Homo sapiens: one gene and its partner. The protein of the gene in region 2 purifies or fractionates together with the protein of the main gene of each other region. This does not show direct contact. Each region holds a gene or a part of one and is shown on either strand. Other genes may lie near its edges.

Evidence for each region.
Region 1: the proteins of TACC1 (region 2) and LYST purify together in Homo sapiens (affinity purification with mass spectrometry; one large-scale study listed by BioGRID and IntAct). This does not show direct contact.

What each region holds. Positions count from the first base shown.
Region 1 is NC_000001.11:235,811,087-235,814,910, forward strand, and holds part of LYST (lysosomal-trafficking regulator), read right to left. Parts: intron 1,976-3,824; coding exon 1,885-1,975; intron 1-1,884. UniProt on the Homo sapiens protein: Adapter protein that regulates and/or fission of intracellular vesicles such as lysosomes. Might regulate trafficking of effectors involved in exocytosis.
Region 2 is NC_000008.11:38,793,516-38,797,339, forward strand, and holds part of TACC1 (transforming acidic coiled-coil-containing protein 1), read left to right. Parts: intron 1-3,824. UniProt on the Homo sapiens protein: Involved in transcription regulation induced by nuclear receptors, including in T3 thyroid hormone and all-trans retinoic acid pathways. Might promote the nuclear localization of the receptors.

The DNA of each region.
Region 1 (3,824 bases), on a different chromosome or scaffold from region 2:
GTGAGATGAGATCGTGCCACTGCACTCCAGCCCAGGTGACAGAGTGAGACTCTGTCTCAAAACAACAACAACAAACAAAAGAGAACAGAGTTAAGAAAGTAAATCTGATTTAAAACTATATATTATATTCTAACTTCAACATAAGAGATGCTGTAGATTATCTGGTATTTAGTGCTGTTGTTCACACCATTTACAAATCTCTTCCCATAGTACCACTAATTAAAATGTAAGGATGTATTATATTCTCAAAAATAGTATTCATAGACCTGATATAATTTAACTACTTTAAGATTTTTCTAAAATTATTTCAAAATCATACACTATATGCCAAATGTTCTCTAAAACTGAGGTTTAAATAATTCTTTATTCAAATTATTTCTCAAATGTTTCAGCACTGAACTAGGCACCAGGTATAGACACTATTATTTCATCCCCGGTGCCTAGATAGGGCCTGGCGTATGGTCAACACTCAGTAAATACTTCACAGGGGAAATGAATGAATTCTCCCTTTAACTAAAAAGATAATTAGATCAGTCTTTCTCTTTGCAGTATGTAGTAAGAGCTATATAAAAAAGTAGCTGTAATTTAGAGTGAATAAATTAAAATCTGTAAATAAAAAAATCTGTGCTTTACTAAGACAGGGAAAGCAAACCAGATGGGAAGAGGAGAAATTAAAAGGAGTCTGACAAATTCCACCCAAGCAAAAGATGCAGACAATGAAGACAACTTCCCCCAAAGAGCATTAATCAGATTTCTTAAGTGATTAACAATTTGTGAATTCTGCAAACTCAGAAAAAAATAAAAGCAGAGAGTTAGTGAATCAATAAATAAGCAGAAAAACAGTATTACAAAACCTTAGATACCTCCTTAAAAAAAGCTCCATGAAATTCACTAAAAATACAGGAATTAAAATACAATAATTTTTTTTTTAACCTGAGAGATCTTCAAACATCTCACAAACATGTCACAAGAAAGGGTCAAGAGGAAAACTATTAATCTCTCCAATGAAACATTTAAAGTTTCATGTACTTTATAGACATATGATTTCTTCAAAATCATAAATTAAAAATATCTATCGACCTTACATAGAATAATTCTACCCAAGCTTGAAACAAAATATTAAATATATCCTTTAGGCTGGGCACGGTGGCTCATGCCTGTAATCCCAGCACTTTGGGAGGCTGTGGTGGGCAGATTACTTGAGGTCAGGAGTTTGAGACCAGCCTGGCCAACATGGTGAAATCCCATCTGTATGTACTAAAATGCAAAAATTAGTCTGGCATGGTGGTGCACGACTGTAATCCCATCTACTCAGGAGGCTGAGGCACAAGAATTGCTTGAACTCGGGAGGCTGAGGTTGCAGTGAGCCGAGATCACTCCACTGCCCTCCAACCTGGGTGACAGAGTGAGACTCTGCCTAAAAAAAAAAAAAAAAAATTATACTTTAAAGGCAACACTAGAAAAACTAAGCTAAAACAAATACTGCAAAAGTCACTTATAGAATACTGGTAATAGAAAGCAGTCTTTAAAATAAGCAAAGAAACTTTAATTTCTTTATTCAGACTTTTCACTTCCAACTTTTCACTATCCATTTTTCTGATGTTATGCTGCACACCTAGACTCACTCCTTCTGATAAGTGTTTCTGCTTCTTTATACATTTTCTAATCATCAGTACATTCAAGTACTTCCCCCAAGAAGCACCATGGTTTTTGTATTATTGAAGGAAAAATGTGTTTGCCTAAATAATTTTTCATATTTAGTATGAATAAATCACAATAACATATAGTGTTCTGAATCTGAATCAGAATCAAACATTCAGGCAGAAGTAACTTTTCTATGAAATTTTGATAACACAAGTGATATGATAAAGGGAAAAAGCATACCTGTTGCCTTTTCTTCTTGGACAGGTATCTTCCATACCAGTGGAAGGAGAGACAGAAGAAGAGTCAGGAGTTCTTCTCTACATGTCAATGCCTATGTCAGTAACAAAAGAATCCTTCATGTTCTAAGGCGATAAGACACATCAGTTCCTAATGTCTTGTCTTAAACTGAACCAAAAAATCCTTTTTCTTGAAAGTCTGCATTTGAAAAGCTAAGAATCAAATTAACCTATCTTCAATCCAGTTAAAGCTGTGATACTTTTAAGTTTATAAGCCTTTCTAATGATAGAAGAATCTAAGAGTATTTGACAGTATTTAGCACACTCCTGCTGATATTTCCAAAAATAGCTGTTATTACCACCATGCACATTGCAAGAATTCCTTACCTATGAAGAAACAGATTTGCTAGGTGAAAATGAAAAGTTAAGCCCTATTAATTAGCAAAGCAATGCTACAAAGTTACTAGAAAAATGTGAAGCCTTCATGCAGTTAAATGAAAAACTCAGAGACGATTTTAAAAGAGAAATTGACATTATTAATAAATAATATATAAGGAGAGAAAGACTTATTAGTGAATGTAATCCAATAAATATTTATTGACTGCATACTATGTCCACAAAAATACTGTCTTACCCTTTCTGGAGGATATGGTCCAAGCCCTGGAGAAGGTCCCCTCATTTGGTCCATAAAATACATACACATAAACAGTTAAAGAACAGCAGAAGGCATGTAGTATGAGTAAGTATCCAGGGGTGGTAGAAGCATTCAGTTTAGGAGTTCAGAAAAAGGAGCAGTCATTATCAGAAGTATGGAAGGAGAATGGGAGCTAGAGAGCTAGACCTGGGACACCTGGGACATGGGTAGTAAAGGATTTAACGACAAATCAAGTTTGAGTTCTCGCCTTACACCAATCAGTGGGAGAGGGGGTCGCATGATGACACAATCAGATTTGCTGAACAGAATTAGTTGGAAGGGGAAGCAGTGTTAGAGGCAGGGTAACAATAATCCAGATGAGAGAGATGATGACTTTCTGAAGTACTCCAACAACAGAAGGGAAAAGGAGACATATTTGAGAAACTGTAAGGTAGAACTAAAATAACTTGCAGTTGATTATCTATGGCACATAAGGGAGAAAAGAAAAGATCTAAAAGGACCCACAGGTTACTGGTTTCAGCATCTAGGTAGCTGATAATGTATTCACCAAGACAGGAAATTTACAAGTGGTATTAGGTTGGGATAAAGATGATGGATTCACTTTTCAGACATATGGAGTCTGAGACGTCTATGCACTATCCTAATGAAGACAGCTTTTTAGTAGACAGTAAATATATAGATCTGGAACTTAAAAAAATATGAAGTAAATAACAAGATTTAGGAGTAATTGGGGTGGAAGGCAAGAAGATATGTGAATTTTCCCAGGGTGAGAATATAGAATGACAATAGAAGACCATCAAGAATGAAACTCCGGACTTTAAAGACTTAAAGATGGGCAATGCTAAAGAAAAGGCTGAAAAGGCTTCTATTGAAAAATAGCCCCAAGAAAGAGAAGTACAACCAGAGAAACCAAGGAAGAGACCAGTTCAGGAAAGAAAGGAGTCAGCAGGGCCAAAGCTGTTGCCCTTTCACTGTGTGACATGATGGCCGAAAAGCATTTAGTAACTGGAATGCCCCTTAACTAACGGCTTTAATGGAGTGATTTGACTGCAACTCCAATTACAATAGGCTGAGGAGTCAAAGGAAGTGAGAAAGTAAAGACAGGACATTCAGACTACTCCTTCTGGTGTCCTGGTTGTGAAAAGGCTCAGAATTCTTCAAAAAAGGGGTTTAGTAAAATCTAAACCCCTTTTTAGGTATAGAAAACCCTTCACGGCAATGATTCCTGTTGAGCTGTCCAGTGTCAGCTCCCTCTGCCACACATGAGCCCTCCGCATACATCTAGCTGG
Region 2 (3,824 bases):
GTGGACTGTATGGTTTGTGAATTATATCTCAATAAAGTAGTTCTTAAAAAAAAACAAAACAAAATTTCAGGGCCCATCAAGTTATATATATATGAAATATATATTTTGGTAGATATGGGGTCTTGCTATGTTGCCCAGGCTGATCTTGAGCTCCAGGGCTCAAGTAAGTGATCCTCCCACCTCAGCCTCCCAAAATGCTGGGATTTCAGGTTTGAACCACCACTGTCATCCCCATAAATAAAGTTATTGGAATACAGCCATACTCATTCATTCATGTATTGTCTATGGCTGCTTTTGCTCTACAATAGCTGGGTTGAGTACTTGGAACAGAGACCAAATGTCTGGCAAAAGTCTAACATATTTACTATCTTGTACAGAAAAAAAATGTCAACCTACATCTATACTTATTACAATTTCAGTAAAAATACAGAGTTTAAGTAATTTGGGAAAATGGCTTTAAGAATGAAAAGGTGCAAGGTTATACCTGCTGAACAAATGAACTGTGGGCGTGAGGTGCCATTAGTCTAGGCCTGCATGTTCAGGGAAGGCCCAGGGGAGAGCCTGATGTGGCCTGGCTATTTGTCATATTTGCAAAGGGGAAGTGATGTAATTGGTCTGCAATGAACTTGATTTTCAATTGACTCAAAGATCTAAGGAGGAATAAAAATTATTTAAAAAGGAAATTAGGGAAGAATGGGGAGAATATTGGAATCATTTAATAGAAGTACAAACACATAGACTTTTAACTTTTGCCCATTAAATTTTTTTTAACATTTTATTTTCTTAAATTTTTTTTAAAAAAATAGTGATGGGGTTTCACTGTGTTGCCCAGGCTGGTCTCGAACTCCTGGGCTCAAGTGATCCTCCCACCTTGGCCTCCCAAAGTGTTGGGGTTACAGGCATGAGCCAGCCTCACCCAACCCATTAAATGTCTTTAATGTAACTTCGGGTGTATGAGAATTTGTAAGTTGACTGTGCAGATCTCTTAAAAGGTTGATATGGTGTATTTTTAGAATGTTTTAGACTGCACGTGTGTGTGTGTTTGTTTGTGTGTGTGTGTGTGTGCGTGCTATAGAAAACACAGCATGGAAACCTTGTTAAAATCAGAGGCTTTGATTTTTTATTCTAAAGCTTTGAGTTATATGTTTAATCAGATACTATGTGAAAAATTTTCATTAGGTACATATTGAAGTGTTCCATTCAAGTCTACAAGTATATCCTCCTAAGGATTTAGTTTAACATCCTTTCCCTGCTCCAACAAGGGAATGCTTTATTAGAGTTTCCTAGAAATAATGGGACTAATTAGGACCTTTCATATTACCTAGTCCAGCAGTCCAACCCATGTGGCTCCTTCAACAGCATCGCAGCCTAATGCTTTTAATTTAATTTTAAATTTTTAATGTTTTGCTGTGATTGCCTCTTCCACAGTTTGATTTTTTTGTACTGTATAATTCCATGTTAAGGTATTTAAAGCTTGAAAATCTTAGCATGATATAGCTACTTTGTTTTTTCATGTATTTTTAGCTCTGAAGTTGGAGATTCCAACCAGCTAATAAATGAGATCAGAGTCATGTGTTTTTTTGTTGTTGTTGCTCTATCACAATGTAAATGTGCCCCTAGGAAGCACCTGCTTCTATATGGTGCCTTACCCAAGGGAGTGTCTTCCTGGGGAAAAAAGTGTAGTTTTTCCAGCAGAAACTTGTGAGAGTGCAGAACCACAGAGGAGCAACAGTGTCTGAATAAAAAATTCCAGGGCAGGGAAGCAAAGTCTACCTGCAGAAAGGAAAGATTTTAGTAACTATCAAATCACAATTTTTCTTTTAAGATGAGTGACAAAATCAAGACCTTGCACTCCCCCATTTTGGGCTTACCCAAGCATCGAATAAAGCAGTAGAACTTACTTTGGTACTTGCGGGTGGCAGAGACACTTTCTACCTGTGTATGTGTTTTGGGAGCCGGCAGTCCTTCTAAAATTATATTGCTGCCATGTAATGTCCCACCTACAAAATGGATGTGGCCTAAAGCCATTTAAACATTTAAATGAAAGAGCAGTTGCAGTGTCTTTTTCAGGTTACCAGTTATACTGCCCAGAGGAAATCTTGGAGGGTATAAACCATTTTGTCACACTCTCCTAAATCCAGAGTAGCGATGGGAGATAATGGTTTATCCACCCAAAACAACCCTCTCAGTGGAGATTTCATAACCAAGGTTGCTAAATTGCCTGGTGACTATTAAATCTGGGCTTAGAAAGGCTTTGCTACTTGTGAGTTCAAGATCTCACCCTCACCTTTGCATGTACATGACCTAATTTTATGAGTTCAAACAAACATGATTAGATCCCCAGGGTTTAGATTGATGATGGCCAGACTCACAAGGGAATAATAATAATGGCATGGAGTATTTTATTAATTCACAAATGAAAAATGTATCTTGACAGTTTGGCAGATGCAGATACTCTCCTAGCCAGTCGAGGACCCTCTTTCTTATATCATAGCTGGAAATATGACAATAAATGATTGATCTCCAGCTTTCCCATTACAATATTCCCACCTAGCAGATCACCAGCTATCTGTTTCAGCCGTATTTATTTATTAGATGTGTTGGGAACAAGTAATCTTTGTTTGCAGCATCTTGTTTGATTTTTATGACCATGATTCTGCGAGATAGGACACAAGTGATTTCCATTTCACAGATTGGGAAATTGAGGCCAGAGCCTTTACTGCTAGTAGTGGACCTGGGTTTTGAATTCAGCTTTTAAGATTGCAGATCCAGAGCTCTTTGGAACATATTATACAGCTTTTCTCTCCAGGAAATTTGTGAATCCCTCTCTGTTGTTCACTATCTGAAGAGAAGACATATCAGAGGAAATAAAGGGTCTTAAAATGTTGCCAGAGCAGGGTGTGTGATGGGGGAAAGCATCGTCTTAAGTATCCTGTCATGTGATAGTAGTTTAAAAAATCAAAAAATACATCTTCCACATGTGTGAACTTGGCACATATTATTCTGAAGTATGAAATGTATTTTAGGAAGTTGAAACATCAGAAGTTTGGAAGCTTGCAGCATGATTTAGATATAAATTAATAGTCAAGCAAAAATCATCACTGGATAAGTGCAGTGGGATTGAAAACATTTTGCTTCCTCAATGCCTAGCTTCAGCTCATCAGTGAAAAATAAAGAAGGAGTAGACAAATTCAGTACTAGCCTTTGCATTCTGTCTCCACCTGAGTCATGCATGGTTGAGAAGAGGCAGGTGTGTGGAGGTGTGTGCGGCTGCCAGGGGCTCTGCGCCTGTTTTATGGTAGATAGAGGAGTTTTTAAGAGGCCTTTGTTGGTGATCTCTGGCTGCATAACAAATTACTCCAAAACTGAAAACAACGAACATCTCACATAGTCTTTGTAGTTGGGAAATTTGGGAGCTGGGTGGTGTGGCTCAGGTCACTTTTGAGAATGCTGTCAAGATGTCGGCTGGGACTGCAGTTGTTTAAAGACTTGACTGAGGCTCAAGAATCCTCTCCTAAGGCGGCTTACTCATTTGCCTGGGCTGTGAGTGCTGGCTGTTGGTGGGAGGCTGCAGTCCTCACCATGTGGACCACTGCTGGGTTGCTTGAGTATCCTCACAGCATGGCAGCTGGCTGCCCCAGAGTGAGTGATCCAAGAGCAAGCAAGATAGAAACTGCAGAGTCTTCTGTGACTTAGCCTCAAAAGTCACACTTATTTCCACAGTATCCTTTTGGTTACACAGGTCAGTCCAAGGGCATGTGTACCAGGAGGTGAGACATATAGGGGCCGTCTTGGAGGCTGGCTACCACAAAGCCCTTTTCCAC